Homo sapiens: one gene and its partners. The protein of the gene in region 1 purifies or fractionates together with the protein of each later gene. This does not show direct contact. Each region holds a gene or a part of one and is shown in the gene's direction. Other genes may lie near its edges.

Region 1 (4,236 bases):
GATGATGGGAACATCCTGTGAGAGCAGCTCATGCCATAGTCACCACTGGCTCAGGCAATAAAGGCTTTCCAGCCCTTGAGGCACCACAAGCCATGGCTGAAAGTGTGGGGAGGTGACCCGGAAATGAACCAGTGAGAGCCTCCCTGGGAGGTTTAACCTTGCAGATTGTGAAGAAAAACGATGTGGCTCTTTCCCTGTTTTTTGTTTGCTTTTTTTTTTTTAAGAAAAATATCATGCTGACTTACTGATATGAATACAGAGATTGTTGTGGACAGGTCTCTTGTGCCTTGTACCAAACTACGAGAAGGATTGTCTTGCTAAACGTTTAAGTAGATTTATAAGATCATCATTTGTAAAGGGGACTGTTCAGAAATGGTGTACTAGAGTTCAGTCACAGAGCTTACCATATACGATCTTATCTAACAACAAAAATGAGCCTTTTTGTCCTTCTTAATCGTGAACCAATTTATTAGGAGTAGAATAAGTTGTTTGCTAAAGACATGACAGGAAATACACTTGAAAGCCTGACCTTTGAAATGACAGTTCATCGATGACCTTTATTTCTTCAGCATTTCTTAAGAATCTTTCTTGTTCAATTCCTGCAACTTAATGTTACTTAAATGCATTTAAGGAATGCCTTTGCGTATATTATCAGAGACTCTTGAAAGCTCTCTTTCTAACTTGAACATAATTTCCATTTCTGGAATCCCTTTCTCTCCCTCAGGGGCTTCCTAGGAGATTTAAGGCGATATTTTTTAACCCAATATCTCTTAAACTTATTAGCCATTTCCAGCTTTTGAGTTGTGATTTGTGGTTGTTGTTTTGCTTTCCTTTTTTTTTTTTTAATTATTTTTTTAAACCTGGTCGATGTCGAGTGTTGTCATATGTTTTTAATAAAAGTGCCTTTCTGTTTCTATTGTCTGCTTGGAGGCTGGGGTATGGCCATTTCTCATTCTCCTGATTCACGGAAGATGTTGATCAGTACTGAAGCCCGGAGCCAGACCGCTAGGTCCTTTGATGCCCAGGCGGCCATGTCAGGGAGTTCCTGCTCAAGCCAGGGTGGCTTAGCCCAGGATAACAGTAGCTTCTGAGATGGGTGACAATTGTTCCACACGTGGCCACAGTCATTCTTCCGGCATAATGGACTTGGGCTCAGGAGGTCTGTCTCTCCTCAGGGATCATGAGCTGAAATTGCTAAACTTTGGGAGTTTTCAGTGACACCCTTCAAAGTGCTCACAGTGTGGCATGGATCAGCTGAGAAGGGCGGATGCGCTTTTGCCCCGTGAGGCATCTATCTGTGTAACTTTCTCCGAGCTGGGCCACAAGGGGCGCTTAGGCCCGCAGACGCCCACTGTGATTGGTTGACGAGATGCCACGCAACGGGACCATCCAGTCACCTTCAACGCAGGTAGGTTTGCTGAGAGGCTCCCTGCGTGACACTTCATCCAATCAGACGTGAAGCTGGCCCGAGACGTGGAGCCATGCTGCGTACCGAAGTGCCCCGGCTTCCCCGGTCCACAACCGCCATTGTCTGGTCGTGCCATCTAATGGCCACTGCCTCCGCCATGGCTGGACCTTCCTCTGAGACGACCTCTGAGGAACAGCTGATCACCCAGGAGCCCAAAGAGGCCAACTCCACTACGTCCCAGAAGCAGAGCAAGCAGAGGAAGCGAGGGCGCCATGGGCCCCGCAGGTGCCACTCCAACTGCCGCGGGGACAGCTTCGCCACCTATTTCCGCCGGGTGCTGAAGCAGGTTCACCAGGGCCTCAGCCTTTCCCGGGAGGCCGTGAGTGTCATGGATTCTTTGGTTCATGACATATTGGACCGCATCGCCACCGAGGCTGGTCACCTGGCCCGCTCCACCAAGCGCCAGACCATCACTGCCTGGGAGACCCGGATGGCTGTGCGCCTGCTGCTGCCGGGGCAGATGGGCAAGCTCGCCGAGTCCGAAGGCACGAAGGCTGTCCTCAGGTACACCAGGAGCAAGTGCGCTCCCTCAGGAGCACCCGAGCACCACGGGAACCCAAAGGGTCTTTTCAGAGCCACTGAATGTGGCCTGAAAGACCAGTGGCTCGCCAAGGGGGACACCACCGGAGGCTGGGGTGGGTGGTGCCCTTCCGACTTGGGGGGCATGTGGCGTGTGGCATCCTGCAATGTTTCAAGCATTTTCCCCTCAGTACTAAACATTGTCAGCTCCAATATATCTGTAGTGCAGTTTGCTCCAAGGAAAAATAGTGGGTGTTTCCGTGATCGTGTTTCATTTCCTCAGTTTCGTAAACGGTCATTTTTGTTAGTTATGTTTCTAGGCTATCTATATGGTGATATTATTACTGCACTGATCTTTACCTTTTTCTGTCTCATTCTCCTGTGACTGGATGGTGGAATTTTCCAGAACTTCACTGTATGCCATACAGCAACAGAGAAAGTGAATACGCTGATACAAGAAGCAAGGTAACCCTCCTAAATGTTTTCAACACCGCTCCCATCACGAATCCATGTAAATAAGCAAATGAGGCCAAGTTACAGTGTACATACAGCTAAATAAAATTTTCAAGAATCCGTTCATTTTCCAGCTTCCTCGACTCTGAGATCACTATTGCAGTTCATTCTTTTTTTGCCATGACGATAATCTTTTCGTTTCTTTTTAAACAGAAACCTTCGTTACTTCCAGGTTTGTGTCAGTAGGCTTAGGGAGTGTCCACAGAAATGGCTCATGCCCTAGTGTTCAGTGGTGTAGCCAATGAGTGACTTGCAGTCTATGAGCAACAGTCATTGTCCCAGTGTGGGGGCAGTGAACCAGGCTGAACCCACAACAGCCTTGCACTGATATGCAGTCTGGTGTTTGGGGGGACAGGGTTGTGATTCTTTACCTGATGTTTTTGTTTTCAGTGTTTGTAATCATGGTCATTTAAGGATATGAATCCAGTGCTAGGAGTAGTATATGTTCCTTGCCCCTAGCATCAAGTTATGCAGAGGATGGTCAGCCTTTAGGAGAAGTCAGATAACGCTTATTTCCTCAAGAGATTTGCATATTAATATTCATGTTAATGTTAATATAGGTTAGCTTTCATTGTGCTTTCTTCTGGGTCCCAAGTCTTTGTATTTTTAGCACTTTTTCCTATGAGTGTATTGTTGAATTTCAGAGCAGCTGCTGACTTTCCCATTGCTTTTCTTTTCAGAGGATCTCCAGCCGCCCGAGTATGTGGACCAGAGAACATACTCTGGGATTGCGACCCATAGGAATTTATTGTATTGTGCCTTGAAGCTCAATATGTGGCCATTTTTGTCAAATGTTTCCCGTGAATTTTGAAACATCTCATAAACAACCTTTCTCCTTCATATGTAGAAACCAGTAAAGGGTGACACTCTCAGTCAAACCATGAAACAAAAGCTGGGAAAATGACAAAAATCAAAATTTTCTTGAGCCCATCAGAAGTGGGAAAGAACCACACCAGATGGCCCAACACATAGCCACATAGATTATTCCACCTTTGGCAGAGGACCGTTTGGTCAAGAGGGAAATGGGGGCATGGCAGGATAGTAGCCAGAGCTTCCCTGAGTAGTGCATTTGGGCAGCGTGGGCAGTTCACCTCCAGAGCTCCACTTGGGCTCCGTAGAGAAAGGATGTAGGGCCAAGAAGTCCCCTCATTGGGATTTGCTACTTTCTGTTTTTGCAGAATATTAGAAAAATGTCATGAAAATAGTTGAAGAGAAATGCTCACTGCACAAGGAGACCAAGAAAAACCCCCCACGAAATCAGCCACAACTAAATCGCTCTGGACGGTGCCGCCAGGTGACCCTACATGTCCGGAGCAACACTTTGAAAACCAAAGACGCTTGGCAGAACCCTGTTCCTTTCCAGAGACAGAGCTGTGTACCTTGTCTAAAACACCGCATCTCACTCAGTGACTTATTTCTCATTATGCTAATTGTTTTCGCTTTAAAGCGCCAGTCTTTCTGTCAAATGGGACATACAAATAAATTTCTAAAATTATCCTTGCATGTCTACTGGGTAATTTGACATGTCTTTTTCAGAAACCGTATCCATTGGGATATTTTACCCTGGAGTGTGTGTTTTCCATTTGTAAATTCAGAAATGAATGAGGAGCATTAGTAAAACAGCGTTAACAATGAACTCTGATTGGGCTGTGGGGAGTGAAGAGTGAGAGTTCAAGGGGACTGATGCCGGTGAGTTATAGGAAGAAAGAGAAAAAGGCTGCTTTGATGTGAAGATG
Region 2 (3,515 bases), on another chromosome or scaffold:
TAGGCCTGACATGGTGGCTCACACCTATAATCCCAGCACTTTGGAAGGCTGAGGTGGGTGGATCACCTGAGGTCAGGAGTTCGAGACCAGCCTGACCAGTATGGTGACACCCCATCTCTACTAAAAATACAAAAATTAGCTGGTTGTGGTGGCAAGCGCCTATAACCCCAGCTACTTGGGAGACTGAGGTTGGAGAATTGCTTGAACTCAGGAGGCAGAGGTTGCAGTGAGCTGAGATCGTGCCACTACACTTCAGCCTGGGCAATAGAGGGAGATTCCATCTCAAAAAAGAGAGAGAGAGAGAGGGAGGGAGGGAGGGAGGGGGAGAGGGAGGGAGAGAGAGAGAGAAAGGAAAGAGAAAGCTAAATGTGATAAGGGCGAGAGAGAGAGAAAGGGAAAAGAAGGAAAGAAAGGAAAGAAAGTTAAATGTGATAAGGGCTGGCAACACTGGAGGGTCTCTGCCTCTCAAGACTCAGCCTTGTTCACAGTTCAGTCCTGCCTCAGGGGCCTTGGCTGGTGCTGTACCCTGGTCCGGGTTGGCCCTCACCGGCCCCCACCCCGGCTCTGGCTCCTTGCCACCCCCCTCTCACAGTACTGATGTTTAAAACACATACGGGCCCTGGGGGACAGAGCAGGGTCAGGATCCCAGAAACAGCCCTACTTCAGCCCCGGCCCTTATGCTGCCCCACCCCTAGCTGAGTCCTGCCTCAGGACCTTTGCTCCGGATGTACCCTCGTCCACGTTCGCCCTCATTGGCCCTCCTCGAGCTCTGGCTCTCTGTCTGAAAAATAAATGTGGCCGGATGGGTGCAGTGGGTCAAGTCTGTAATCCCAGCACTTTGGGAGGCCGAGGCAGGCGGATCACCTGAGGTCAGGAGTTTGAGACCAGCCTGACCCACATGTTAAAACCCCGTCTCTACTAAAAATTGAAAAAATTAATGGGGCGTGGTGGCGTGTGCCTGTAATCCCAGCTACTCGGGAGGCTGAGGCAGGAGAATTGCTTGAACCCAGGAGGCGGAGGTTGCAGTGAGCCCAGGTTGCACTGTTGCACGCCAGCCTGGGCAACAAGAGCAAAACTCCGTCTCAAAAAAAAAGAAAAGAAAAAGGCCGGGCGCGGTGGCTCACGCCTGTAATCCCAGCACTTTGGGAGGCCGAGGCAGGCGGATCACGAGGTCAGGATATGGAGACTATCCTGGCTTACACGGTGAAACCCTGTCTCTACTAAAAATACAAAAACTTAGCCGGGTGTGGTGGCGGGCACCTGTAGTCCTGGCTACTCGGGAGGCTGAGGCAGGAGAATGGCGTGAACCCGGGAGGAGGAGCGGAGCTTGCAGTGAGCAGAGATTGCACCACTGCCCTCCAGCCTGGGCGACAGAGCGAGACTCCGTCTCACAAAAAAAAGAAGAAAATGGTGGCATCACTCCCAGGGGTGACAGCTGCAAACCAGGCCCTGCGCACGATGGGGCCCTCTGGTTACTGCCTCTCTTAGGCCAGCTGGGGTGGTTTGAGTTTCTCTTTCTTGCCTGGTCCTGACCTGCAGCTCTGCCGTGCGCCTGTTAATCTCCATATGATCCCTGGGTGGGTTCCCAGAGGGGTTCATGTTCCCTGAGGGTCACACGGGGAGGCAGGATTTGACTCCGGGACGGCCTGATTCCCCCACAGGCCAGCGGAGCCTGCACCACCGTGGAGACAACCTGGAGACCCTGGTCCTCCTGAACCCATCAGACAAGTCCCTGTATGATGAGGTAGGGAATGGCTGACGTCCTGGAGGGGGCGGGCTGCTGGGACCCGTGCCTTCTCTGTCTTCCTGTCTCGTGTCCTTGTCTTCATGCTGCCCCAGATCCTCTCAAGACACCCGGCACCACACTTCTTCGCCCACGAAGCCTTCCCTGTGGCTTCAGCCTCCGCTTCTTCCCTCCTCTGGGGTGGGAGCAGAAAAGCCTGGACTTTGGGAGGGAGGGGAGGGTAAGCACTCCCAGCTCAGGGCCCAGGACAGCGTGGGTCTGGAGGTGGGAAGGCCAGAGCAGACAGGTTTTCCTCCTGTGGGTTCCCTCCGGCTAGGCCCCAGGAGTTGTCTGAATCGACTCACTAACATTAACCAGCTTGTGGCCATCTGTACTCTACCAATTATACATCCGGAAGATGAACCAGACAGAGCCCTGGGGCATCCCACTACAGACCTTCTTACAGGTTGATTCCTTGGATCAACTTTTCCCTTTTGTTCCCTTGAGGGGCTCTCAGTCTTTAAGAGACAGAGTGAGACACAGACACCCCCAGCCCTGTGGCATCAGGGCTGGGCTGGAGGGAGAGGTGGACTAGAGAGAGCCCAGAAAGGGCAAGTAGTGCCTTCAGGAGGAAGGGACATCAGAGCTGGGCTTTGTAGGATGAATAGGAGTTTGCTAGGGTTGCTCCAGGGCCCAGCAGGAGACCTGGAGACTGCCTTCGTAGCTAGTTGAGCACTGGGCTGGTCGTGGGGTGAGGACAGGAGAGGGGTGGTTATGTATCGACTCGAGGCTACCCCAAAGAGGACTGCTGGATACGTCACTGCACAGAACGGGTCCTTTAGTGTTCACCCCCTCCCTCAGCTCCGGAACCTTCTGTTGGACCCTGCCTCTCACAAGCTACTGGTGTTGGCTGGGCCCTGCCTGGAGGAGACGGGGGAGCTGCTGCTACAGACAGGGGGCTTCTCGCCTCACCACTTCCTCCAGGTCCTGAAGGACAGAGAGGTAAGCCACCCCTTTGCCATCCCCTGCTTCCCCAGCTCTGAATCCTGACTGGGGTGTATCAGGCTGTGTGGCACCAGCGACCTGCTGTTTTCCATGGCCTGGTCTCCCCATCCTCTGTAGGATGGCAGTGGTGACACATGCCTCCTGGCTGTCTGGGGTCAGTCCCATTGCCCGCGAAAGGGTGTGGTGTGAGCTGAGTTTGTAGGTCAGCAGATGTCCCAAAGTCCTGATGAGGGATGGAGCCAAATGGGTCCTTCCTGGTGCCCGCAGTCTGGGTAGGACACATGGGCAAAATGGCAAACCTCACTTTCACATTGTAGTGGGGCACTTAAAAATGGTGAGAAAAGGTTCAGTAGACAGGTGGGGCGTGGAGAGTCTCCTTGGAGGGAGCTGTGCCCTGGGAGGAGAGAATGGTGAGTGTAAAGGCCCTGGGGCAGGGAGGCATTTGAAGGGGAGGGAGAGACAGGAGGTGAGGCCAGATCAAAGAGCCTTGTGGCGCTGGAGAGGGTTGGGTTTTGGCGGGAGGGCCCTGAGGAGCAGGCCCTGGGGGAAAGGATGAGGGTGTCCTCGCCCAGTTTTCCCACCGGGCTAGGTGTTGCCTGGCTCTAGGTGGTCCCTTACCACTCCTCCTCCATACAGATCCGGGACATCCTGGCCACCACGCCCCCACCTGTGCAGCCGCCCATACTCACCATCACCTGCCCCACCTTCGGTGACTGGGCTCAGCTGGCACCCGCTGTGCCTGGCCTTCAGGGGGCGCTCCGGCTCCAGCTGCGGCTGAACCCCCCGG
Region 3 (3,515 bases), about 49 Mb from region 1:
GGGCCTTAAGAATGGCTCCTCTGTTTACAACACACCCAACAGGAATCTGGGCTTACTCCTCACAGGTGGCATGATACTTTGGCCTTCCTGTGACATCATGCCCTATACATGTCTCCCCTGGAGAAGCCCAAGGGACTGCTTTGCACAGGGCCAGTGGGAAATGGCTCAGTATTGGAGGCCAAGACCATAAACTGTGTTTGGTAGTGAGTCTGGGGCTGGAGGGTCTTAGAAATCCCTCTCCAGGGGCTGTTTGTATTTGTTTGGAGGAGGTTGCCACCTGGTGTCTAGTGCTTAGACAGCAGGGTTGCTTGGTTAGAAACAAGTTTCATTTCCTTTTTCCAAGGTACCTGGAGTACAAGAGGGTCCCTAACAGCAGACCACCTGAATATGAGTTCTTCTGGGGCTTGCGCTCCTACCACGAGACTAGCAAGATGAAAGTCCTCAAGTTTGCATGCAGGGTAAGAGGAGAGCTGCCCGAGCTTGGCATATTAAGGCAATGGGATACCCTTGGCTGGGGCAGGCAATGCACAGGGATGGGCAGGTACAGAGCAGCCTGCAGCTCATATATAAACATGTGGAGCCTCCTTTATGTCCCAGGGTGCTGCTAGATATATAGTTTACATCATCTCATTCATTCTTCATACTTTGTATTAATCAGCATGGGCTGCCATAACAAAATACCATAGACTGGGTGGATTAAAAAACAAATTTATTTTCTCATAGTTCTTGAGGGCGAGAATCCTAGGTCAGGGTCCACGAGGGTCAGTTCCTGTTGAAGGCTCTCTTCCTGGCTTGCAGATGGCTGCCTTCTTGCTGTGTCCTCACATGGCTTTGTGTGTGAGAGAGAAGAGAGCAAGCTTTCTGGTGTCTCTTCTTATAAGGACACTAATCCTGTTGATCAGGACCCCACCCTTATGGCCTCATTTAACCTTAATTATCTCCATAAAGGCCCTATCTCCAAGTACAATCACACTGGGTGTTAGGGATTCAACATACGAATTTGGGGGCGGGCACAACCCTTCAGTTCATAACATATTTACGCTCTATCATTTCCTGTAATTATAAAGACACTTAGGCTAAGTGAGGTTAAGTAACTTGTCCAAGGTCATATAGCACGTAAGTCAGCAGAGCTGAAACTGGAGTTCAGAACTGACCCATGATAGAGCCCCAATAACTGAGAAGTTTAAAAAAGTATTGCTACTAGTTTAATACAAAGCCCGTAGGTTAATACATGATTACTAGGGTTGTTTTCTTATTATGATTATCATCCCCATTTCAGGTGCAGAAGAAAGACCCCAAGGACTGGGCTGTGCAGTACCGCGAGGCAGTGGAGATGGAAGTCCAAGCTGCAGCTGTGGCTGTGGCTGAGGCTGAAGCCAGGGCTGAGGCAAGAGCCCAAATGGGGATTGGAGAGGAAGCTGTGGCTGGGCCCTGGAATTGGGATGACATGGATATCGACTGCCTAACAAGGGAAGAGTTAGGCGATGATGCTCAGGCCTGGAGCAGATTTTCATTTGAAATTGAGGCCAGAGCCCAAGAAAATGCAGATGCCAGCACCAACGTCAACTTCAGCAGAGGAGCTAGTACCAGGGCTGGCTTCAGCGATGGTGCTAGTATTAGCTTCAATGGTGCACCCAGCTCCAGTGGTGGCTTCAGTGGTGGACCTGGCATTACCTTTGGTGTTGCACCCAGCACCAGTGCCAGCTTCAGCAATACAGCCAGCATTAGCTTTGGTGGTACACTGAGCACTAGCTCCAGCTTCAGCAGCGCAGCCAGCATTAGCTTTGGTTGTGCACACAGCACCAGCACTAGTTTCAGCAGTGAAGCCAGCATTAGCTTTGGTGGCATGCCTTGTACCAGTGCCAGCTTTAGTGGTGGAGTCAGCTCTAGTTTTAGTGGCCCACTCAGCACCAGTGCCACTTTCAGTGGTGGAGCCAGCTCTGGCTTTGGAGGCACACTCAGCACCACGGCTGGCTTTAGTGGTGTACTCAGCACTAGCACCAGCTTTGGCAGTGCACCCACAACGAGCACAGTCTTCAGTAGTGCGCTTAGCACCAGCACTGGCTTTGGAGGCATACTCAGCACCAGTGTCTGTTTTGGTGGCTCTCCCAGCTCCAGTGGTAGCTTTGGTGGTACACTCAGTACCAGTATCTGCTTCGGTGGCTCTCCCTGCACCAGCACTGGCTTTGGAGGCACACTTAGCACCAGTGTCTCCTTTGGTGGCTCTTCCAGCACCAGTGCCAATTTTGGTGGTACACTAAGTACCAGCATCTGCTTTGATGGCTCTCCCAGCACTGGTGCTGGCTTTGGTGGTGCTCTCAACACCAGTGCCAGCTTTGGCAGTGTGCTCAACACCAGTACTGGTTTTGGTGGTGCTATGAGCACCAGTGCTGACTTTGGCGGTACACTAAGCACCAGTGTCTGCTTTGGTGGCTCTCCTGGCACCAGTGTCAGCTTTGGCAGTGCACTCAACACCAATGCTGGTTATGGTGGTGCTGTCAGCACCAACACTGACTTTGGTGGTACACTAAGCACCAGCGTCTGTTTTGGTGGCTCTCCCAGCACCAGTGCTGGCTTTGGTGGTGCACTCAACACCAATGCCAGCTTTGGCTGTGCCGTCAGCACCAGTGCCAGCTTCAGTGGTGCTGTCAGCACCAGTGCTTGCTTCAGTGGTGCACCAATCACCAACCCTGGCTTTGGCGGTGCATTTAGCACCAGTGCTGGCTTCGGTGGGGCACTTAGTACCGCTGCTGACTTCGGTGGTACTCCCAGCAACAGCATTGGCTTTGGTGCTGCTCCCAGCACCAGTGTCAGCTTTGGTGGTGCTCATGGCACCAGCCTCTGTTTTGGTGGAGCTCCCAGCACCAGCCTCTGCTTTGGCAGTGCATCTAATACTAACCTATGCTTTGGTGGCCCTCCTAGCACCAGTGCCTGCTTTAGTGGTGCTACCAGCCCTAGTTTTTGTGATGGACCCAGCACCAGTACCGGTTTCAGCTTTGGCAATGGGTTAAGCACCAATGCTGGATTTGGTGGTGGACTGAACACCAGTGCTGGCTTTGGTGGTGGCCTAGGCACCAGTGCTGGCTTCAGTGGTGGCCTAAGCACAAGTTCTGGCTTTGATGGTGGGCTAGGTACCAGCGCTGGCTTCGGTGGAGGACCAGGCACCAGCACTGGTTTTGGTGGTGGACTGGGCACCAGTGCTGGCTTCAGTGGCGGACTGGGCACCAGTGCTGGCTTTGGTGGTGGACTGGTCACTAGTGATGGCTTTGGTGGTGGACTGGGCACCAATGCTAGTTTCGGCAGCACACTTGGCACCAGTGCTGGCTTTAGTGGTGGCCTCAGCACCAGCGATGGCTTTGGCAGTAGGCCTAATGCCAGCTTCGACAGAGGACTGAGTACCATCATTGGCTTTGGCAGTGGTTCCAACACCAGCACTGGCTTTACTGGCGAACCCAGCACCAGCACGGGCTTCAGTAGTGGACCCAGTTCTATTGTTGGCTTCAGCGGTGGACCAA
Region 4 (3,515 bases), on another chromosome or scaffold:
GGAGGCATGGGAGGATAAATGCAGGGATCAGGGCAAGTCCCCTCTTCCTGTGCATTTCGTCTCTGTGTCACTTGAGGCCAATCCCTAGCCCTCTCTGAGCCATGGGCTCCTCATCTGGAATACAGAAGGCTGTAGGGCATTCCCCATCTGCTCAGGGCCCTGTTTGTGGTGGAGAGGGCAGGGAGCCCCGTGTGCCCCCATGTGCCCAACCCTGCCTGGCATCCTCCCCAGGGCTGGCCGTTCTGCGGAGCGCCGAGCCGCTGGCCCTGGGCCGCTGGCACCGTGTGTCTGCAGAGCGTCTCAACAAGGACGGCAGCCTGCGGGTGAATGGTGGACGCCCTGTGCTGCGCTCCTCGCCCGGCAAGAGCCAGGGCCTCAACCTGCACACCCTGCTCTACCTGGGGGGTGTGGAGCCTTCCGTGCCACTGTCCCCGGCCACCAACATGAGCGCTCACTTCCGCGGCTGTGTGGGCGAGGTAAGAGCAGCCTCCTCGGGACAAGCGGGAGGGGAGGGGTGCCAAGCCTTGTGTCCCCCTCGGCTCTCCAAGCACCTTGGCATTGGGCCCCTCCACCTGCAGCCACCCACGGGCCCTGGGCCAGGACACTGTACCTCTGAGCCTCAGTTTCCTCCTCTGTAAAATGGGCATGATCACACCTACTTTGAAAGGTTGGGCAGAGGATTGTCTGCACTGACGGATGAATGTTTCTAGCACACAGTAGGCACTCAACTCCTGCGCCTCCCTCCCCACACCGAGAATCCATGCTACCACTCAGGGCCCAATGTGGGCTCCCAGCTCCCCTCTGCTGCATTCTTCTCCCTGCTGGTACACCTGGGTCTCTGCCTCCCAGGCCCCTTTAGTCCCTCGGTGTCCCTGTCCCCACAGGTGTCAGTGAATGGCAAACGGCTGGACCTCACCTACAGTTTCCTAGGCAGCCAGGGCATCGGGCAATGCTATGATAGCTCCCCATGTGAGCGCCAGCCTTGCCAACATGGTGCCACGTGCATGCCCGCTGGCGAGTATGAGTTCCAGTGCCTGTGTCGAGATGGATTCAAAGGTGGGAAAGCCTGCCCAGGGCACCGGAGGGGAGGGGCACAGGTGGTCAGCGACACCTCCAGCCCATGCCCACCCACCCACTCGCCTCTGCCCTGGCCCACAGGAGACCTGTGTGAGCACGAGGAGAACCCCTGCCAGCTCCGTGAACCCTGTCTGCATGGGGGCACCTGCCAGGGCACCCGCTGCCTCTGCCTCCCTGGCTTCTCTGGCCCACGCTGCCAACAAGGTACCCAGGCCTGGCTTCTCTCCACTTCATCTCTGTCTTGGGGCCCCGGAGCTCGACATAGTACCCACGGGTGTCTATGCCCACCAACTGGACCCTGCCCTTCTCCATAGGCTCTGGACATGGCATAGCAGAGTCCGACTGGCATCTTGAAGGCAGCGGGGGCAATGGTGAGTACTTGCCATGGCCTCCTCCCCAGCTTCAGCTCAGCTCACTCTTCCAGTTACCCCACACCCTCAATTCTGGCCTGCAAGCAAAACAGCTTTATATGAGGAGCTTGCTGGGCAGAGAGACAGAATGAAGACCACAGCCATGTGGAGCTAGGGCCTGCCCCACACTTACTGGCTGGGTGACCTTGGGCAGGCCTTTGAAACCACTCTGACCTCAGTTTCCTCCTCTGTATTCATGTATTCAGTCAACAAACTATTGTTGCCCATCCTTGCCCTGAGAGCAGTAAATATAAGATGCATAAAGCAAGACCCTCATTCCCAAGAATTCCACCGTCTACTGAAAAGCTAAGGAAACAGTGAAGAGTGAATGCTGATTGAATGTTTACGGACACTGTGCTAACCCCTTTACAGACACATCTCTTCTTATGTATCACTAATATAATAGGCGAGGCAGTGGTATAGTGGGTAAGAGTATAGACTTGGAGCCAGCCTGCTTGGGTTCAAATCCTAGCTCTCCCACTTACTAGCTGTGGAACTTTGGGTGAGTCGCTTAACCTCTCTGTGCCTCATATAAAATGGAGATGAGTAACATCTTTCCCTAAAGATTTGGATAAAATTTTATGTGAGAGTAAAATTACTTAGTGCATTTTTTTTTAAGGTGGAGTCTTGCTCTTTCACCCAGGCTGGAGTGCAGTGGCACAATCTCGGCTCACTGCAACCCCCGCCTCCCAGACTCAAGCGATTCTGCTGCCTCAGCTTCCTGAGTAGCTGGGATTACAGGTGCCTGCCACCACACCCCGCTAATTTTTGTATTTTTTGTAGGGATGGGGTTTCACCATGTTGGCCAGGCCTGTCTCTAACTCCTGACCTCAGGTGATCCGCCCCCCTTGGCTTCCTAAAGTGCTGGATTACAGGCGTAAGCCACCGTCCTAAAGTGCTGGATTACAGGCATAAGCCACCGCGCCCGGCCACTTAGTGCATTTTAAATGCCTAGAACAATGTGTGGTACAGAGTCAGTACAGAATGTTAGCTGTTGTTAATATTATGTTCAGCTGGCCGGGCACACTGGCTCACGCCTGTAATCCCAGCACTTTAGGAAGCTGAAGCGGGCAGATCACCTGAGGTTGGGAATTTGAGACCAGCCTGACCAACATGGAGAAACCCCATCTCTACTAAAAATACAAAATTAGCTGGGCGTGGTGGCACATGCCTATAATCCCAGCTACTCCGGAGGCTGAGGCAGGAGAATCGCTTGAACCTGGGAGGTGGAGGTTGCCATGAGCCAAGATTGCATGCACCATTGCACTCCAGCCTGGGCAACAAGAGCGAAACTCCCTCTCAAAAAAAAATACTATATTCAGCTGGGTATGGTGACTCACGCCTATAATCCCAGCACTTTGGGAGGCTGTGGCGGGCAGATTGCTTGAGCCCAGGAGTTCCAGACCAGCCTGGGCAACAAGGCGAAATCCTGTCTCTACAAAAAAATACAAAAAGTAGCTGGGCATGGTGGTGCTCATCTATGGTCCCAGCTACTCAGGAGACAGGCAGGAGGATTGCTTGAGCCCAGGAGTTCAAGATCAACCTGGGCAACACAGGGAGACCTCATCTCTACAAGAAATTTAAGAATTAGCTGGGTGTGGTGGCACATGGCTATGGTCCCAGCTGAGGCAGAAGGATCACTTGAGCCCAGGAGGTCGAGGCTGTAGTGAGCTACAATTGTGTCACTGCACTCTAGCCTGGGCAACAGACTGAGACCCTGTCTCAAAAAAATAAAAAATAAGGCTGGGTGCGGTGGCTCACACCTGTCATCCCAGCACTTTGGGAGGACAAGGTGGGTGGATCACCTGAGATCAGTTCGAGACCAGCCTGGCCAACATGGCGAAACCCCATCTCTACTAAAAATACAAAAATTAGCCAGGTGTGGTGGTGCACACCTGTAGTCCCAGCTACTCGGGAGGCCAAGGCAGGAGAATTGCTTGAACCTGGGAGGTGGGGGTTGTAGTGAACCAAGATTGTGCCACTGCACTCCAGCCTGGGCCACGGAGCGAGACTCCATCTCAAAAATAA
Region 5 (3,515 bases), on another chromosome or scaffold:
TAAATAGCCTTCCGTGAGACTGGTTATCTTAAGAGTTTGGCACAACCTTTAAAAGAGAGAGGAGTATGTAGAAAAGTTTTTTTGTAAAGCAGGCAGGCAGTAACTTGCTGTTAAAATGTAGCAAGCTGCACAGTTCCTTCAGTGCATCTCGGGAAGCGCATCACCGAATGGGTTTGCAGAGGTGAAATTTCAATCCCAGACTAGCTTCCCCAAAACTGTTTCTTGCTTGTGGTAAATGACATTTGTGTTTGTGTTTTGTTTCTTCCTGCCACTGAAAACATAACAGGAGTAAGACACATCTGCTGGAACAAAATGCATGGTTTATGATTTATTTACTATCTCAGTTGGTCTGTCTCTTCTGTTTGCAGTCCCCTAGTTCACTGAGAGTGGACTGTAGGTTCTTTAATCATCTGGCTCACTTTTTGATATGGTGTTTTATGAATGGAGAGAGATATTTTTCCTGATTGGCTAGAATACTAGAACAGGTCTCTGATCCAAGCCAATCAGAGTGCAGCTTGTGAACCCCAGCTCTGTGAGCAATGGTTGTCTAGTATATCCACATGCCTCTGGGGACATGACAGCGGGTGACACCGTTAATCATTTGGTGTGATAGGAGTAAACGGAAGAGGGAAGAGAATGCTGTAAACAGGATTAGTGTCTTGTCCTTCAGAATTAAGTTTCTCAGGTTGGCCTTTGTGATTGGAGTTGATGGGAAGGTGACAAATGCATGTGGATATGCGGGCATTTATCCAGCTGCCAGAATGGATGGCGTGGTTCTTCCTCATCAGCAGTTATTTGAGCACTGATAGCTCAGACTCCTCTATCCTCAGGGGCTGGAGATAGGGCTCTTTGACTAGCAACTCCCCAGCAGTTCTAATCAATATTGCATGGGATCAATAGGCATGTATTCATTGCTTAGATAATAAAATACTTCATGATTGACTATTCCAGCGGTTTCATGAGTGCCCTGATTGTTTAAGGGGTTTCTGTGCTGTAGCTTAAACAGGAGTCAATCTCTTATAGATGTGAGGAAGGTTAAGTATTTTCCTGCAGTCTATGGTACTGAGCCAGAGGCAGGAGGAGAGGTCACTGGAACCATAGAACTGTCACAGAGTCATAAGGCCTCAGTGTGCCTTATGCCCAGCTATCAGGGCAATTGGAGTGTTCCTTTCCTGAGAATCCCCAAGGTAGCTCTACAAGCTCCCTGAATTTTGAGTGTCTGGGCTCCTATAGGGATTTTGCCAGGTGTATGTACATGAATGTCCAAGAGAAGGTCTCTGATTGGTGTCCCACTAGCCATAGCTCCCAGTCCTGTGGGCTTTGGAAATGCTGCCCTCTCCTTTCTCCCTATCCACTGTCAGTGCCAACTAATCAGCTACCTTGTAGCTGGCATGTGCATGTCTACCGGGTGCCAGGCAGGGTGGTGGGTGCTTGGAGATACAGTGGTGAGTAGAGCAAATTGGTTCGTTTCATCAAGACAGACAGGTAAATAGGCAATGATGATACCATGCACTGAGTGCTAAGAATGGGATAGCTGGTTTCAGAACTTATATGTAAATGGGATCTAGAGTGACTGGCAATCATGATGGAAGGAAGGGCTGGAAACTGCATTTGCAGAGTACTGTATATAAGACTAAGAAAAATAATTGAGTATATTAAAGAATAGGGGCAGCCTGAGGGAGATTGTGAGGCACTTTTAGCTGGGCCCTGGGTCTGCAGCTGCCACATCCATTGAGGGAACTGGGAGGGAGAAATTCATCCCGGTGGATCTCTGGTTGTTGCAAATAGAGAGATGTGTTGGAGGTCAACAGGGCCTGTGCACAAGGTTGGAGTCTGGACATGCAGCTGCCCCAAACTAGACTGTGACTGACAGAAGGCATGGCCATGGCAGGAATGCAGAAGAGGGAGCACATTGATGGATCATTGCCAGGGAAGGTATTGGGACCAGTAGGCAGGATTACTCCAGACAAAGGGCTAGAGAGATGTTCAGACTGAGCATGCTGGGTGTGCTGAAGGTGCCAGTGGGAATGAAGGTGGTTTGCAGTGCAGGGAGCAGCCTGTTAGGATGCCTGCTGGGAAGGGATAGGAGGGTGTGGCAGGGCCTCCATGGCACTTTGGTTCTTTGCCCCTACTGCCCCTCCTAGTAGTACACAGCTTGTTGTTCTCATGTCCACCTTATTCATGGGGTCTACATAGCCAGCCTTCTAATTAGTCCTGTGCTAAAAGAACTGACTGCGTTGCTCCAGTCGCATCTCGATTGCTGAGGGGCCTGTGGTCAGACTCTGTTGCTTCTCACTGTAGCCTGACTCATCTCTCCATCCAGCTCCTCTATAAAAGTTTGTCTTTGGGTAAGCTTTGAGGTTTTATAAACAAAGTTAATGTTTATTGTGATTTATAATTGGAAGAGTTGCAGAAATAAAGACCACAGAGATCCCTTCAAGATCAATCACAGAACCTTCATTTTCTAGGCCAATAACAGCCAAAAGGGCAGTCAAGCTAATGTGCAATGATGAACAGACACAGTTGCCTGAGGACCTATCATTGTTTTCAAAGCATGCAGAGCCATGAGTGAAGCCTCCTGGTTTACTGAAGGAAGGAAGAACACATCTTTGTCAAGTTTGACCAGATAGTATAGCTGTTCTCCTGTGACCAGCTTCACTGCCCTGCAGAGGTGATGAGTGCTTAGGAAGCTGCTTTGTCTATGATGTAGGGCTGTCTGTTTCTCAAACAAGGCTGGATGCAGAACATGGGTCAAACAGGGCCCAACAGGTTTTGGGTGGTAACTCATTCTGGGGTTAGGGTCAGCGTTCAGATTGGTTTATCATGTGACAGAGACTGGCTGTTTCCTCTTTTCTTCTGAGTAAATAGCCAGAGTACATTTCCCAACCTCTCTTGCAATTAGTTGTGGGCATGTGACTAAGTTCTAGTTGATGGATCATGGTCAGAAGTGATGTGCCCCATTTGCAGGCCTGGCCCCTTAAAACCCTCATAGGTTATTATCCATGGTCTTTTTCTTTCCATGGCAACCCTGGGAATCATGTATTGAAGATGTGAGAGTAACAAGATGGGAGGCATCTGGATCCATGAATCACTATGTGGACAAGAAACACCAGCCAATCATGGAAACCCATTTTGGATTTTTCGGGAGTGAGAAATAAGTTGTAGAGACTTATCTGTTACAGCAGCTAGCAATGTCTTCAGCGCAAATGTCCAAGATCTGTTCTGCAAGAAGATGGCCTTTTTTCATCTTATTCACATTATTGTTTTTGTTAACTACTGAGAACTTGCCCAGTGAGTGAGTATCAGGCCCTTACATGGATGCTTTGATTCACTTCTGCCACCAACTCTTTGAGGCCCTTACTAGCATCATCTCCACTTGAAAGATAAGAAAATAGGTTCAGAGGGGTTAAATCACTTGCTCAAAAATGCACAGCCAGTAAGCGGCAGAGCCATGGTTATAATCAGGTCAGTCTGGCTTTGGACTTCTAGTTTTTAATTATAATGCTTAATTGCCA

Evidence for each region.
Region 2: the proteins of H2BW1 (region 1) and MAP1S purify together in Homo sapiens (affinity purification with mass spectrometry; one large-scale study listed by BioGRID and IntAct). This does not show direct contact.
Region 3: the proteins of H2BW1 (region 1) and TRO purify together in Homo sapiens (affinity purification with mass spectrometry; one large-scale study listed by BioGRID and IntAct). This does not show direct contact.
Region 4: the proteins of H2BW1 (region 1) and HSPG2 purify together in Homo sapiens (affinity purification with mass spectrometry; one large-scale study listed by BioGRID and IntAct). This does not show direct contact.
Region 5: the proteins of H2BW1 (region 1) and MACROH2A1 purify together in Homo sapiens (affinity purification with mass spectrometry; one large-scale study listed by BioGRID and IntAct). This does not show direct contact.

The regions. Positions count from the first base shown.
Region 1 is NC_000023.11:104,010,906-104,015,141, reverse strand, and holds H2BW1 (histone H2B type W-T), read left to right. Parts: upstream 1-1,433; 5' UTR 1,434-1,565; coding exon 1,566-1,972; intron 1,973-2,393; coding exon 2,394-2,430; 3' UTR 2,431-2,452; intron 2,453-3,678; 3' UTR 3,679-3,995; downstream 3,996-4,236. UniProt on the Homo sapiens protein: Atypical histone H2B that can form nucleosomes structurally and dynamically indistinguishable from those containing conventional H2B.
Region 2 is NC_000019.10:17,722,465-17,725,979, forward strand, and holds part of MAP1S (microtubule-associated protein 1S), read left to right. Parts: intron 1-1,661; coding exon 1,662-1,744; intron 1,745-2,584; coding exon 2,585-2,725; intron 2,726-3,364; coding exon 3,365-3,515. UniProt on the Homo sapiens protein: Microtubule-associated protein that mediates aggregation of mitochondria resulting in cell death and genomic destruction (MAGD). Plays a role in anchoring the microtubule organizing center to the centrosomes. Binds to DNA. Plays a role in apoptosis.
Region 3 is NC_000023.11:54,927,324-54,930,838, forward strand, and holds part of TRO (trophinin), read left to right. Parts: exon of another isoform or gene 1-112; intron 113-343; coding exon 344-458; intron 459-1,279; coding exon 1,280-3,515. UniProt on the Homo sapiens protein: Could be involved with bystin and tastin in a cell adhesion molecule complex that mediates an initial attachment of the blastocyst to uterine epithelial cells at the time of the embryo implantation. Directly responsible for homophilic cell adhesion.
Region 4 is NC_000001.11:21,825,796-21,829,310, reverse strand, and holds part of HSPG2 (basement membrane-specific heparan sulfate proteoglycan core protein isoform b precursor), read left to right. Parts: intron 1-231; coding exon 232-476; intron 477-884; coding exon 885-1,056; intron 1,057-1,158; coding exon 1,159-1,281; intron 1,282-1,391; coding exon 1,392-1,448; intron 1,449-3,515. UniProt on the Homo sapiens protein: Integral component of basement membranes. Component of the glomerular basement membrane (GBM), responsible for the fixed negative electrostatic membrane charge, and which provides a barrier which is both size- and charge-selective.
Region 5 is NC_000005.10:135,392,721-135,396,235, reverse strand, and holds part of MACROH2A1 (core histone macro-H2A.1), read left to right. Parts: intron 1-3,515. UniProt on the Homo sapiens protein: Variant histone H2A which replaces conventional H2A in a subset of nucleosomes where it represses transcription. Nucleosomes wrap and compact DNA into chromatin, limiting DNA accessibility to the cellular machineries which require DNA as a template.